Linked DNA regions of Homo sapiens. The protein of the gene in region 4 interacts with the protein of the main gene of each other region in a pairwise test. Each region holds a gene or a part of one and is shown on either strand. Other genes may lie near its edges.

What was found.
Region 1: the proteins of MORF4L1 (region 4) and TNNT2 interact in binary tests that used the Homo sapiens proteins (3 or more experiments, as listed by UniProt).
Region 2: the proteins of MORF4L1 (region 4) and RACGAP1 interact in binary tests that used the Homo sapiens proteins (3 or more experiments, as listed by UniProt).
Region 3: the proteins of MORF4L1 (region 4) and MPHOSPH10 interact in binary tests that used the Homo sapiens proteins (3 or more experiments, as listed by UniProt).

The regions. Positions count from the first base shown.
Region 1 is NC_000001.11:201,371,181-201,374,680, reverse strand, and holds part of TNNT2 (troponin T, cardiac muscle), read left to right. Parts: intron 1-1,279; exon of another isoform or gene 1,280-1,412; 5' UTR 1,413-1,426; coding exon 1,427-1,467; exon of another isoform or gene 1,468-1,562; intron 1,563-2,525; coding exon 2,526-2,536; intron 2,537-2,639; coding exon 2,640-2,654; intron 2,655-3,500. UniProt on the Homo sapiens protein: Troponin T is the tropomyosin-binding subunit of troponin, the thin filament regulatory complex which confers calcium-sensitivity to striated muscle actomyosin ATPase activity.
Region 2 is NC_000012.12:49,988,662-49,991,578, forward strand, and holds the end of RACGAP1 (rac GTPase-activating protein 1), read right to left. Parts: intron 2,132-2,917; coding exon 2,023-2,131; intron 1,683-2,022; coding exon 1,607-1,682; 3' UTR 501-1,606; downstream 1-500.
Region 3 is NC_000002.12:71,144,134-71,147,633, reverse strand, and holds part of MPHOSPH10 (U3 small nucleolar ribonucleoprotein protein MPP10), read right to left. Parts: intron 3,207-3,500; coding exon 3,096-3,206; intron 1-3,095. UniProt on the Homo sapiens protein: Component of the 60-80S U3 small nucleolar ribonucleoprotein (U3 snoRNP). Required for the early cleavages during pre-18S ribosomal RNA processing. Part of the small subunit (SSU) processome, first precursor of the small eukaryotic ribosomal subunit.
Region 4 is NC_000015.10:78,879,390-78,882,889, reverse strand, and holds part of MORF4L1 (mortality factor 4-like protein 1), read right to left. Parts: intron 2,379-3,500; coding exon 2,311-2,378; intron 1-2,310. UniProt on the Homo sapiens protein: Component of the NuA4 histone acetyltransferase (HAT) complex which is involved in transcriptional activation of select genes principally by acetylation of nucleosomal histones H4 and H2A.

The DNA.
Region 1 (3,500 bases), on a different chromosome or scaffold from region 4:
GAGCAGTAATTTCACAGCAAAGAGAGCTGAGATGTGGGGAGGTTAAGTGACCTTGCCAAGGTCGCAGGCAAACGCATGCTGGAGCCAGCATTCAAAACGAGATTAGTCTCACACTCAAGTGCTTGCTCTCTGCCCCCTCCCTGTGATTACATGCTCATTGTAACACCTGATGTTGCCTAATGCCTTCCCCTTTTGTTAATGTCAACTGGAGCCTCGTAAAGACCCTGAGTAGCCAGGATGTGTACACTTTATCTCCATGAGACAGAGAAAGGACTGAGGTTTGGAGATGTTAAAAAGACTCGCCTAAACACCCTCGGCAAGCTAATGGAAGAGGATCTGAATCTAGATTATCTGTTCCCAGTGCAGTGAGAAGATGATCTCAGAATGAGTTCCCTGGGGGAACATTTTTTAATCGGAATTTTCATTGACATAATTAAAGACTAGTACACAGTTGTCTTTAATAACGAGCGTTTACACACGGTGCCTAGTTTCTCCCGAGGGCAACATTTGCAAAATTAGTACTATATCAAAACCAAGATTGGACATCAATACAATCAATCTATGATCTTATTCAGATTTGCCCACAATTGCACCATGTGTATGTGAAACTCTAAACAACTTTAACCTGTGGAGGTTCACGTATCCATCACCACAGTCTACATACTGAAAAGATCCCAAACCACAAGGATCCCCGCTGTGTGCTTTGATTTATTTATTTAGAGACAAGTTCTCACTCATTTGTCCAGGCCAGTCTCTTGGGGTGCCCAAAGACCTTTTGTCCAGGTCTCACTTTTGTCCAGCACACATGGAATGGGTGTGGTGGCTCACGCCTGTAATCTCAGCACTTCGAGAGGCTGAGGCAGGAGGATCCCTTGAGCCTGGGAGTTCGAAACAGCCTGGGCAATGTGGCAAAATCCCAGCTTTACTAAAAATACAAAAATTAGTCGGGCATGGTGGTGCACAACTATAGTCCCAGCAACTCAGGAGGCTGAGGTGGGAGAATCGCTTGAGCCCAGAAGGTTGAGGCTGCAGTGAGGCTTTGTGCAGTGAAGATTTGTACAGTGCTGAACAGATCCTGTGGAGTGGGGGTGGGCAGAGTGGATGGAAAGGTTGAGAAACTGCAGACATTGTCTTGAGTGTCACAAATGGAAATGCAGCATCCCAGGCAGTATTGCCTGTTCAGGGGCAAGGAACGAAGTGGACATCAGCAGGTGGCCTTGCTGCCATGTGGGTGTCACTATCTCCCCCAGCAGGGGAGAAAACAGGCTTTTTGTTGCAGGTCACACAGCTCATGAGGGGTGGAACTAGATTCACCCTAGGCCTCGCTGATCTCTGTACAACGGGGGCCAGAGCTCTTCTGAGGAAGGCAGGCTTCCCTTTGTACCTGCACTGACTTTTTTCTCCTTTTGGAGGGAGAGCAGAGACCATGTCTGACATAGAAGAGGTGGTGGAAGAGTACGAGGAGGAGTGAGTATCTGGAGCATCTTGCCTGAGTGGGGTCCTCTCCCGCCGCTGCCCTGACACCTGGTCCAGGAGCCTCCCAGCTGTCCCTCGGATTCTGGGTAGAAGTAGCTGTGTGTGTTTTGGGCACCCCGAGGAGAGATATAGCCATTTCCTTTCCACTCCTGTACCCCTGGGTTGTAGATCCCAGGCAGAGCACAGGCCGAGAGACTTCGGGAAGCACAGAGGTTCAGCTCCAGGGTCATCAGTGTCCTTGGCCAGTCTTGGCTAGGGGCCATGAACAGAGAAGCTGAGATGTTGGGTCTCCTGAAACTGACTGAGGAAGGTTCAGTGACTCTCCAGAGGCACAGAGCTGATTATGCCCCCCAAACCCCAGCTCAGAACCCAGTGTTATCACCCTGTCTTGGATCCCTACTCTCTCATGACAGTGCCCTGCCCACAGTCCTATCCCAGAGGGAAACCAGGGGGTGGGACACAGCCAATCCAATAACTACAGAGGATAGTGGTCACCAGGGAGGAGACAGAGGTATAGGCACGGCTACTGCCCTCACAGAACTTACTCTTGTTGAGATGTTAAGACATAAACTGGGAGAAGAAATTAGCAACTGGGGGCCTGGTGTGGAGGGCGGGCTGTTGGTAGTGTAGGAGTTCTGAGGAGAGGGAGATCAGGGGCTGGAATAGTCAGGGGGCTGTGTGGAGAAGGCAGGTCTTACCTGTGTAGAATTTGGAAAGATAAGAGATTTGGGAGAGGGCAGGACTTTCTAGAAAGGGGTACAGCTTGGGCAAAGATGGAAAGAGTAAGTGAGCAGAACGCTGGTGAGACCAAGCTGGCTGGGGCGGAGGCTTGCGGAGGATGGTAGGAGGCAGCCCTGCATGAGAACGGCAGGCCAGGCTAGTGGGTGTCATTGCAAGGTGGGCAGGGCAGCGTGGACTCCACTAGGCAACAAGGGAAAAGAAAGGGGGATTATCTTTGGGGAAAGGCCAGTGTGTGCATGTGTGTGCAGGCGTGTGTGTTTGCATGTGCTTGTGTGCGAGCTACTGACAGTGTTTCCTGTTGCTCTCAGGGAGCAGGAAGGTAAGCGTAAACGTGTGTACTCATTTGGATCAAAGACAGCCTGGTTCGAAACTGACCCACCTCTTCTCTCTTCTCTTGCTGCCTGGACTTCTCTTCTGAGCAGAAGCAGCTGTTGAAGGTATGTGCCTCAGGCAGGTGGAGAGCCAGAAAGGGGCAGGCTCAGCAATGTGGAAATCCTGGGAGCCCTGGGAAAGCAGCTCATCTGTCCCTGCTCCTCACTCTCAGCTGAGCAAGATCCTCCAACAACAGTGCCTTCTAAAATGGGAATCAGTCCTACCTGGGTTGCTCGGGTCTTGAGGCAAACGATTTAAACCTGTCTCTTCTGTCTGCCATTTGCTTCAAACACACTGATCACTTTTCCCAATTTTTTTTGCTTCTTCTCCCTTTTATCATGGGAAATTTTAAATGCACATAAAGGTAGCAATAATAATAATAATGGCCCCCCCTGCCCAAGGTACCCATTACCAGCTTCAACAATCATCATCTTAGGGCCAGTCTTCTTTCCTCTATACTCCACCTTCCACCAGTTATTTTGGAGCAGACATCCAAAATTGTTCCCAGGCACCATGTCAGTTCACGCTTCAAGATTTCGCTACACCGTATCTCTAAGAGATAAGCACTACTTAAAAACCATAACCACAATGCCATGATATGCCCCAAAAGATTCCATTTAGTAATTTCTCAAATGCGATTGTGAGTATGAAATTGCTCAGTGATCTGAGACGTCTTATCTCGGCATGAAGATTTGTCATGATTCTGAGCTTGCAGAGGCCCCTCTTGCTGCTCCTATGCTGATCGGTTAACCCATCGCCCTCCTCAGCTGTGGGTCCCACATCTCCCTGAAAGAACGCCCTCACCTTCCCTTCTTCCTGAGAGCTTGGCACATGGAAATGACTCAGAGGCTTCACTCCAGTCCTCCCCCTGCACCCCAGGCAGGTGGACCCTGCCTTTTAGTGGCTCAGGT
Region 2 (2,917 bases), on a different chromosome or scaffold from region 4:
GGCATAGGACAACTCTACAACTCCAGTTTGGACAAAGAGAGACTGGATGAGAAATGAAGAAACAAACTCCCGGTGGTGGTAAGCCTGGGGTGGGTCCAGAGAGTGGGAAATGGGGATGAACAACAGAGTCAAGACACTTTGAAGGAAGTAATTTTTTCTTTTTTTTTTTTTGTGACAGGGTCTCACACTCTGTCACCCAGGCTGGAGTGCAGTGGCACGATCTCAGCTCACTGCAACCTCTGCCTCCCAGGCTCAATTTTCCCACATTAGCTTCCCAAGTAGCTGGGACCACAGGTGTGCACCACCACGCCCAGTTAATTTTGTATTTTTTGTAGAGACAGAGTTTGGCCATATCTCAAACTCTTGACCTCAGGTGATCCACCTATCTTGGCCTCCCAAAGTGCTGGGATTAGAGGCATAAGCCACCAAGCCCAGCCCCAGAAATGATTTTCTAAAAGGCATTGAAAATTACCTTGCAAGACAAGAAAACCAGCCTCATGTTCATTTTGAAAAAGCTATTTACTTTTTTTCCAAATATTATCCCAAATAGGTGTTTTACAGATAAGGGTCAATACGAAGTCAAACATTCTACAGAAGAAAATCGTTTTTACAGACATTAAGAATAATTTTAACAGAAGAAAAAGCTCACATCTATCTAGATGTGGCTATGTTCCATGGGAAAAATTTCAGCATCCAAAGTGCAAAGAAAAAATGACTGTAGCTTTTCTTACCACAAAATATTGACAATCTTCCCTTATAGCCTACTCTTTATTGTTAGTTGGGATGCCAAAGGATGATATATTGACCTTTAGAAGTTGGGCTCCACTGGACAAGGTTGGGGGTATGGGGGCCAAGCATCAGAATGAATTCAATTTTAAAAGAAAAACTGGCTTTGACCCCAAATGAACCCAAAGTTCAGCCAGCAGCACATCAGAGATAAATACGAGTTGTACTTTCACATTTACAAGGTTGTGCCACTCAACACTATTAAAGACCTAATCATCCAAATCAAAGCTACGCATACTCCCATCACTAGTTCTGTCCTCAATGCATCCCATTTTTATGAAAGCTCCATATTATAGCTCAGTTCATAATGGGGAATGAGAACTTCTGGTTCTTAGAAGGAGGCATCCTAAATCCTCTGGTCTAATCCTTTCTTTGCCCTGCCCTCCCACTTCCCACCCTGAGACAAGCTAATCTTATCAGATAGGTAGGGTTTCTGTCATTGTCTCACGGAAATCAGTTCTAAATGAAACTAGAGAAAGATCATTCTATGAGCAGCATTTGGCTTTAAGCCAAAGGAACAATAACCCCCTTCCCCAAAAAGAATCACAACCAATTCCATACTAACCCTTCTACCCCTGGAAAGATGTCTCATCTAAAAGCTCCCAACAATGACCAGCACAAAGTGCTGATATTATGTGACTTGAGGAGAAGGAAGGGGAGATATATATAGTTTTAATAAAACCCTCATGCACAATTAAACTTGAGTAAAAGCCTGGAGAATGCTAAAAGTAGTAATGAGTACAGGAGGCTGCAGAGCAGAGTACAGATGTGTCCTTTCTTATAGTCAGTCAATGCTGGGAAGTAACAGGCAGATGTGACTTCACTTGAGCATTGGAGAAGCAAAAAAGTTGCCTTGTCGTCCTAGGTTAGTGGCAGACTTGCTTTTGCTCCCAAATCTACAATAAAAAGAGAATGAACTGGAAAAATATTCTATAAAAAATGGTTGAATAAACAACTATAATATTACTTGATATAACCCATTATAAGTAGGAAACCCTAGACAACTATTTTGCAATAGTTGCTTAAGTATTCTTAGTCACCAACAACGAGAGAGGGGAAATAGTAAAGACTTTCAGAACCTTTTTAAAGAAGGAATCCTTATAGCCCCACGTTCCCTTTTAAAGTCTAGTTGCTAGCTAAAATCGAATGCAATTTTTCTTTCAATAAGCTTCAATATAATAAGAAGTCTAAGAAAGTAGTTGTTTTTTATTTCCTAGGAAGGCCAATTCTGCATACCTAGGAGTGTTCTTGGTGAGGGTGGAACGGACTCTCTGTGACAGGGAACTAGATGAAGGAGTCTTGAGAAGCTGATGTTCAGGAGTGGTCACAGGTCCCAGTAAACTCACTTCAAAGTTCAGACATATTTTTAAGAGAGGTGGGAAAAAAGAAGGCATCTTTTTAGATGGCTAGTTTTAAGCTGATTACCCTCTGAAGCACTTAAGAGCTAAGGTTAGACATCTAGCAAAGTCCCAGAGATCATTTTTGTCATCATTCTGTAACACACTAGTGTATCTTTTGAACTCAATGAATAGCTGACACGTCCTGATTTAGGCCATTCTCTAACTCCACACTTCACAAATCTAACATCTAAACATCTGACTTTTAGCTATACTAGAAGAAGCAATATGCTCCCTTAGAAGGAACTTGCAATAATGAAAGAATGGGTCTCCAATGCCAGTGAGACTGGAGTGAAACCAGCCTATTCATATAAAATTGTTGGTTAGCAATATAAATTGGCAAAAGCCTATAAGAAATTTAATAAATCAAGTTGGTAAAACATACCAAGACACATAAAAATGTTCAAGCCATTTAATTCAGTGATCCCACTCTTAGGAATTTATCATTAAGAGAAATGCTATATTGACTATAGCATTACTTGTAATTATGAAAAATTGAAAAATAATGTTAATACCTACTAGAACATTTAAGTAAATGATAAATAAGATTATACATGAGAAAAAGTTCTCACAACATGCTAAGTGAAATAAGAATGAATTATATTTAAACTATTATATATATATATATATATATATTTTTTTTTTTTTTTTTTTTTTTTTTTTAGACAGAGTCTCACTCTGTCACCAGGCTGGAGTGCAGTGGCGGGATCTCAGCTCACTGCAAATTCCGCCTC
Region 3 (3,500 bases), on a different chromosome or scaffold from region 4:
TGGCGCTATCTCGGCTCACTGCAAGCTCCCTCTTAAGGGTTCATGCCATTCTCCTGCCTCAGCCTCCCGAGTAGCTGGGACTACAGGCGCCTGCCATCACACCTGGCTAATTTTTTGTATTTTTAGTAGAGATGGGGTTTCACCGTGTTAGCCAGGATGATCTGGATCTCCTGACCTCGTGATCTGCCCGCCTCGGCCTCCCAAAGTGCTGGGATTACAGGCATGAGCCACCACACCCGGCGTTTTCTACATTTTTACATAACATTTCTGCCATCTTCAAACATCAGTTCTTCCATCTCTTCCTCAACTATTCCTATCTACCATGCATGTGGACATTCTCAAACAACCATTAATGCTGTTTGGTAAGATTTACTGATCTCTATTAATATTATCTTGACTTTGCTTACAGAAAAAAAAGCTAGCTCTAAGAAGTATATGGAAAAAGATGCAAGGAAAGATGCTTACGGGAACAAGAGTCAAAAATAGACTACTGATAAATTTCCTCATCTTTCAACTACTGAAAACATCTCTATAAACAAATATGAAATAATACTGAAAAACTCAAACAGTATCAAAATAAATCAAAGCTATCAATTACAAAAAGGGGGAAAGAATGCAATGTTAATTGAAGGACCATCTGCTTCAGATTTTTGTCTTTTTTTGAAAGAACTACCCAAGAAATCCAGTAATTAAAACAGGTTTCATACTGATCCTGCAACTAAAATGGTGACTATATATTGCAGTTACATTAGCATTCTTTCTTCCTTATCACCATCCTGTCCATGGAGTTATTTGCTCAAGGAAACTTCACAAAGAACAAAAACAAGCCATAAACACAATAGGATCCTGGATTCTAAGTGAGAGAAAAATGAGAGTGTGAAAGAAATCATTTCTTCCACTGGACCACTGTTCAACTGTTATTAAAAACACTGTGTTCCATTCTAGTGTTTAAAGAGAAATATGGAGAAAAAGAAGACAGTCCAAAAAGCCACAAAATGCTGGGCACGGTAACTCACGCCTGTAATCCCAGCACTTTGGGAGGCCAAGGTGGGCAGATCATTTGAGGTCAGGAGTTTGAGACCAGCCTGGCTAACATGGTGAAACCCCGTCTCTACTAAAAATACAAAAAAATTAGCCAGCCGTGGTGGTGCATGCCTGTAGTCCCAGCTACTCGGGAGGCCGAGGCAGGAGAATCGCTTAAACTTGGGAGGCAGAGGTTGCAGTGAGCCAAGATCATGCCACTGCACTCCAGCCTGGGCAACACAGTGAGATTCTGTCTCAAAAAAAAAAAAAAAAAAAGCCACAAAAAATAATGGCTGTGATTAGTAAATGGAGTCTACAGAGATGGTGTGAAATACCAACCTGAACATGAAAAAAGTAATATCAAGGGGAACCTACACTAGCAATTCTACATTTCTTAAGGGAAAAAAGAAAGGCTTTTCATTTGGGCACATAGACACATATACATTCACTTCTCCTTCACTTCCCAGTATTCCAAGGAATGTCTAAAGGCTTCCGTGTGTTAGATCCTAGCTAGTGCGAGGAACAGAGTGGAACAGTAGATGCATTTCGTGCTGCCTGAAGACAAGTAGAGAGCAATGAACAACTAGCGAATGACTGCAAATGTGCAATGCAGCTATGAGGAAAAGGAGCCAAGTGGTGAGACATGCAGCAAGGTGGGAAGGGGAGTCTACCCTAGGTAAGGAGCCAAGGAACATCTGCAAGGAGGGAAAGGCGTCTAGCCTGGGCAATAAGGAGCCAGCCATGCCAAAAAGGAAGTGCAGCCTACTGGGCCAGGGGAAGAGCACAGTGAGAAAGCGCAAGGGACTTGGCCTGCTCAAGGAATCAGAAGATCAGTGGGGGTGGGGGTAGCAAGCCAAGGGAGACCAAAGGGGTGGGAAGAGCCAGATCACACAGGTAAGGCCCAGAAAGGCCCACGTCCTTCATCTCAGTAAGACCTGCTGGACAAGAGGAGTTGAGAAATTCCACTCATCTCTTCACCTGTTTATTTTACACAGCCCATAGCAGGGACTTTGGGAATCTAAAGATGGTTCCTGCCATCAAGAACTTACTTGCATGTAATTACAACTGGATTAAAAGCATACATATATACCAAAAAAAAAACCAAACAAACAAAAAAAAACAACCAGGTTAAAAAAGCTTACTGTCTGAGAAGATAAAATATTTGCATGGGAATCACCTAGCCATCAACTAATAATAAAGGATCTTGGAGATTAGCTCTTCGGTACAAATGAAACGTAAAGCGATTGCCTGCATCATAAAGCTAGTTAGGAGCAGAACTCAGCTCAGGTTCTGACTTCTAGACTAGTCTTTAATTCATGACATTCCATTTCAGACAACAACACAGGCACCAAAGGGCAACAGGTGAACAAGTACCAAAGGATGGTACAAGCATGTTTTATGGGTTCACAGAAGCTGGTAAGCAGGAGATGAGGCTCCAAGGAATAGACAGGTAGAGCCAAGTCTGGGTGACAGACAGACAGGGGAGGAGCATTTGAGAGGGCTGGGCCTGGTGAAGGAACATCATGCGGAGACAGCTGGGCCCAGAGTTAGTTCTCACTCTCCCACCTCCTAAACCTTGGTTTTCTCCCCTGTGAAATGGAAACTATAGTACCTGCCTCAGTGTTGTGTGCATTAAGTGTTAGTGTATGTAAAGAACCTAATATGACACATAGCAGATACTCCATAAATGCTGGTATAGATATCCATACATCTCCAAACCCATTATACAATGAAAATGCAACAGAAGACTGAGAGGGTAGGGAAAGGAGGAGTCCCTGTGGCTACGGCTGAGGATCTTTTAAAGTGTGAGGTAAGTTAAAACAGTAAGAGGCAGTACTAGCATGATGCCTGACCATGCCCAGCCCCAGCTGGCAGGGGCTCACTGAAGATCTGGGTAGAGCCAGAACTGTCATGGGACCAGAAGTGAGCTTTCCTCATGGAGACCCTGCCTGGAATTTACAGCAAACTACAAGTTTGTATCCTGAAACAAAATAAAGAGCTAGTCTCACAAAGGATCAAAGCTATGAAGGTCACCCTGCTCTAGCTACACACTGAACTGTTAACACACTTACCGGTTTAGGGATAAAGTGGAAGTTTGAGAGGGCATCCAATTTTAAGAAGAGGGAATCCATCATCTTCTGAATTTCTACATGTTCTGGATTTTCTTCTTCTGCTGTTTTTTGCTTAGGAAATAAGTTCAACAATGTCAAACTAAGCGACTTGATATATATCACAGGACAAAACACTAAAGGTCAATGAGAGTATTTCTAACTTCTCATCACTAAAGCTTCAGCTACAAAGAAACATTCCAAAAGCAAAATTAAAAGCAGCAGTACCATGAGGGTTCCAGCACCTACCAGAGATGTGATGTGCATTTTAGGAGCTACAGTAACCATTACCTCTAATACTCAGAACTTAAAAATTTAATTACCTTGGTATTTACTTCTGTCAAAAACTAAGCTATTCCTAAGATGGCT
Region 4 (3,500 bases):
GGTGTCTACCTATGTTGCCCAGGCTGGCCTCAAACTCCTGGGCTCAACCTCAGCCTCCCTAAGAAGCTAAAACTATAGGCACCACCATACTGGCTCTAAAACAATTCCTTTAAAATGCAGGAGATGGAGGAGATTAAGCCTAAACCATAAATTTGCTTTGTGTTTTTTTTTGATATCCTATATGGTCTTTCCCACTCATAGTATGCATAAAATTAAGATGTTATCTTTCCTGTAGAGAAATGAAATTCTCCTAACACTCTCAACTTTATCTGGATATTGTCAGAATATCAACACACAAAATATAAGTCTAATAAAGATTGAAATGCAGTTTTAGCAAGGCATTGTTTAGTAATAAAAAGCTATGAGATACACTAGGAGTCACTATTTTCCTGTTTCCTAGATATTAGAATCCATTTAGTACTAAAAGCACAGTTTACTTCTACCAAGACAGTTTTCTCCATTATTTTCCCAACTTCTCAATATTTAAAATACAAGTCCATGAGGTTGGAGTTACCTATCATTATTAAATATTACCTATCATTATTAGAAATACATGTTGTTGTTTCTTTTTAAAGGAGTCCAGATCTTGCTCTGTCACTCAGGCTAGAGTGCAGTGGCACATCATAGCTCACTGCAGCCCCAAACTCCTGGGCTCAAGTAATCCTCCTGCCTCAGCCTTCCAAGTAGCTACAGGTGCACACCACCACACCTCACTGATTAGAAATACTTTAATTATCATTAACTGGGAAAAAAATACCCACAAGTTGTCAGGATGCACTTCTATGCATTTCAGATTTCTACCTTTCCACATTTATATTAATGGAAGTAAAAGGTCTGATAAATTCTCAGCTGAAAACATCTGATACGTGAAAACAACTTCCTAACAAAGAAATAAAATTAACTGGGTTGGTCACCTGGATAGAGTACTAGATGAAACAAGACCAAAGTCACAGGGCCAGTGAACTTCACAGGAAAAATAAACTCCTTCCATAGTAACAGAATACTCATCAAATCAGATGGCACTGATCCCATAGTAAACCAGGTAAAAGAGCCTGAGTCAGGTGACACAAAGCCTTAAGTTACTAGAGGACAATTCCACAAGAACAATACTAAATAGCAATGGCAGTGCTATCTTTGAAGGACAAGGCATCATTAATAAAATGTAAAACCTCCCATAGTAAAAATTACAAGTCTTTTCATTACAATCACCAAATAGGAGACTTGGGTAAATTTTTAGACAGGGTTATTTGTGAGGCCCAAGGAGAAAAGTCCCATCACTGAAAAACAGCTCCACTGGATGGACATTCTAGAATGTGTTCAATCTATACCCACTGTCCATTCCTAGAACAAGATCAATAACATCGGTACTTTACATACACACACACACACACAAAAAGGCCGGGCAGTGGCTCACACCTGTAATCCCAGCACTTTGGGAGGCCGAGGCGGGTGGATCACCTGAGGTCAAGAGTTCAAGACAGCCTGGCCAATGTGGTGAAACTCCGTCTCTACTAAAAATACAAAAAATTAGCTGGGCATGGTGACAGGTGCCTGTAATCCCAGCTACTCAGGAGGCTGAGGCAGGAGAATCACCTGAACCCCTGAGGCGGAGGTTGCAGTGAGCCGAGCTCACACCATTGCACACTCCAGCCTGGGCAACGAAAGCAAAACTCCATCTCTCAAAAAAAAAAAAAAAAAAAGGCTTAACTCTTAGGGGTGAGAAATTAAGACTCTATAATTGAATGTTTCTGTGTTAAACCATGCTAAAAAGTGAGTCACATGAAGTCATTTTCGGTCAACACTAAATAATGTTTCCAAAGTTCAGAATATGGACTGGTAAATTCTGTCTTTATTTCCCAATCAAGCAACCTTTATCCTTTCCCCTTTTCTAGACAGAAAACCCAACTAGTTTTTTTTAGCACAGCTGCTTGAAATAACATATATAATCAACATGTTTGTGGTAAGGCCAAATAATTCAGGCCATCCTAAAAATGTACCAAAACCAGGAAAAAAAAAAAAACAGAAAAATGTGATTGCCACATTCAACCAGAATAATTGATTGACTATATGACTAATAGATATTACACTAGAACATAACAAATATTCCCAAGATCCAAGTATATTTAAATTAAAATGGCTCAGTACCCTAATTTCTAATAGTTTTGTCATACTACAAATGATTCACCTTTGCTTCAATATGTACTATATTACATTAAAACTGCAGAATTGAAAAGCATATGCTTGCTAAGCCAGTCAGTGACACAAGCTATCTTGTTAATTACAAATAGAATTGTAAGATCTAATACTCACTTTTTATTCCAACCACTGTAATGTATGAAGTATTTCACTTGTTTGTCCTTTATGGCAACCTTTACACACTGAAATTCAAAAAAAAAATAATAATTCACTTAGAAATTTTTTAAAGACACTACCTTTTCAAATCATCCTTCAAAGACACTCTACACAAGCTTTATGGTGGCCTAAACAGAATGACTAAGAACACTAAGCTTGTAGAATACTCAAGTTACAAAACTGAAGATTAGTCACAAAAGGTCCAACAAAGCTGAGAACCACAAGCATAAAAGGTCACCTTAAATCTTTAATCAATGGATTACAAAAGCTATCCAAGGACAGCTAATGAAAGCTATGCTTGTGTCTTCTCAGTCTAATCAGCCAGGAGCTATATTTATTTCAAAAGCAAATTCCTCTAAAGCAAAGTCTTTAAACTATATTATAAAAAAACTTCATTAGCTTATGAAAGGCAGTAAATGGACCTGTTTCTGAAAAGTTAGTTTAAACAACTTGTAAAGCAATGAATTAAAAATATTTCACTTTTCTTAAAAGCAGCCAGACAAAAGGAATTACTAGAGGCAAGTCATTAACTATGACAAGTGATGACTATCTGGTTTTGGATTTAAAAGTCTTTAAGAGAAAACCAAAATAACCACAACAGTTTAATTTGTTTCAATAGCTTCAATTCGAAAATTGTTCACCAGAGTGTCAGGTGCCAGGAGAAAAATCAGCCAGTTTAGTAGAGTTTGCCAAACGTTGATACAACAATAACAACATTCAGGGATAAAAACGATTAACAGGACATAATTTTTTTTTTTTTTTTTGGTAGAGACAGTCTTGCTATCTTGCCCAGACTGATCTCAAACTCCTGACCTCAAGTGATCCTCCTGCTTTGGCTCCCCAAAGCCCTGGGATTACAGGCTTGTACGTCACAGCCCCTGGCCATGAGTCGTAATTTAGCACTTACAAACATTATATCATTAAGATGTATGTACGTATACATATACTTAGAAATTCCTGACCATCTCCATACATCCAAATTCAGTCATTTTAGGATTTCTTTTTTAAGAGACAGTCTCCCAAGGGGCAATGGCTCACACCTCTAATCCCAACACTTTGGGAGGCCGAGGCAGGTGGATCACGAGGTCAGGAGTTCAAGACCAGCCTGGTCAACATGGTGAAACCCCGTCTCTACTAAAACTACAAAA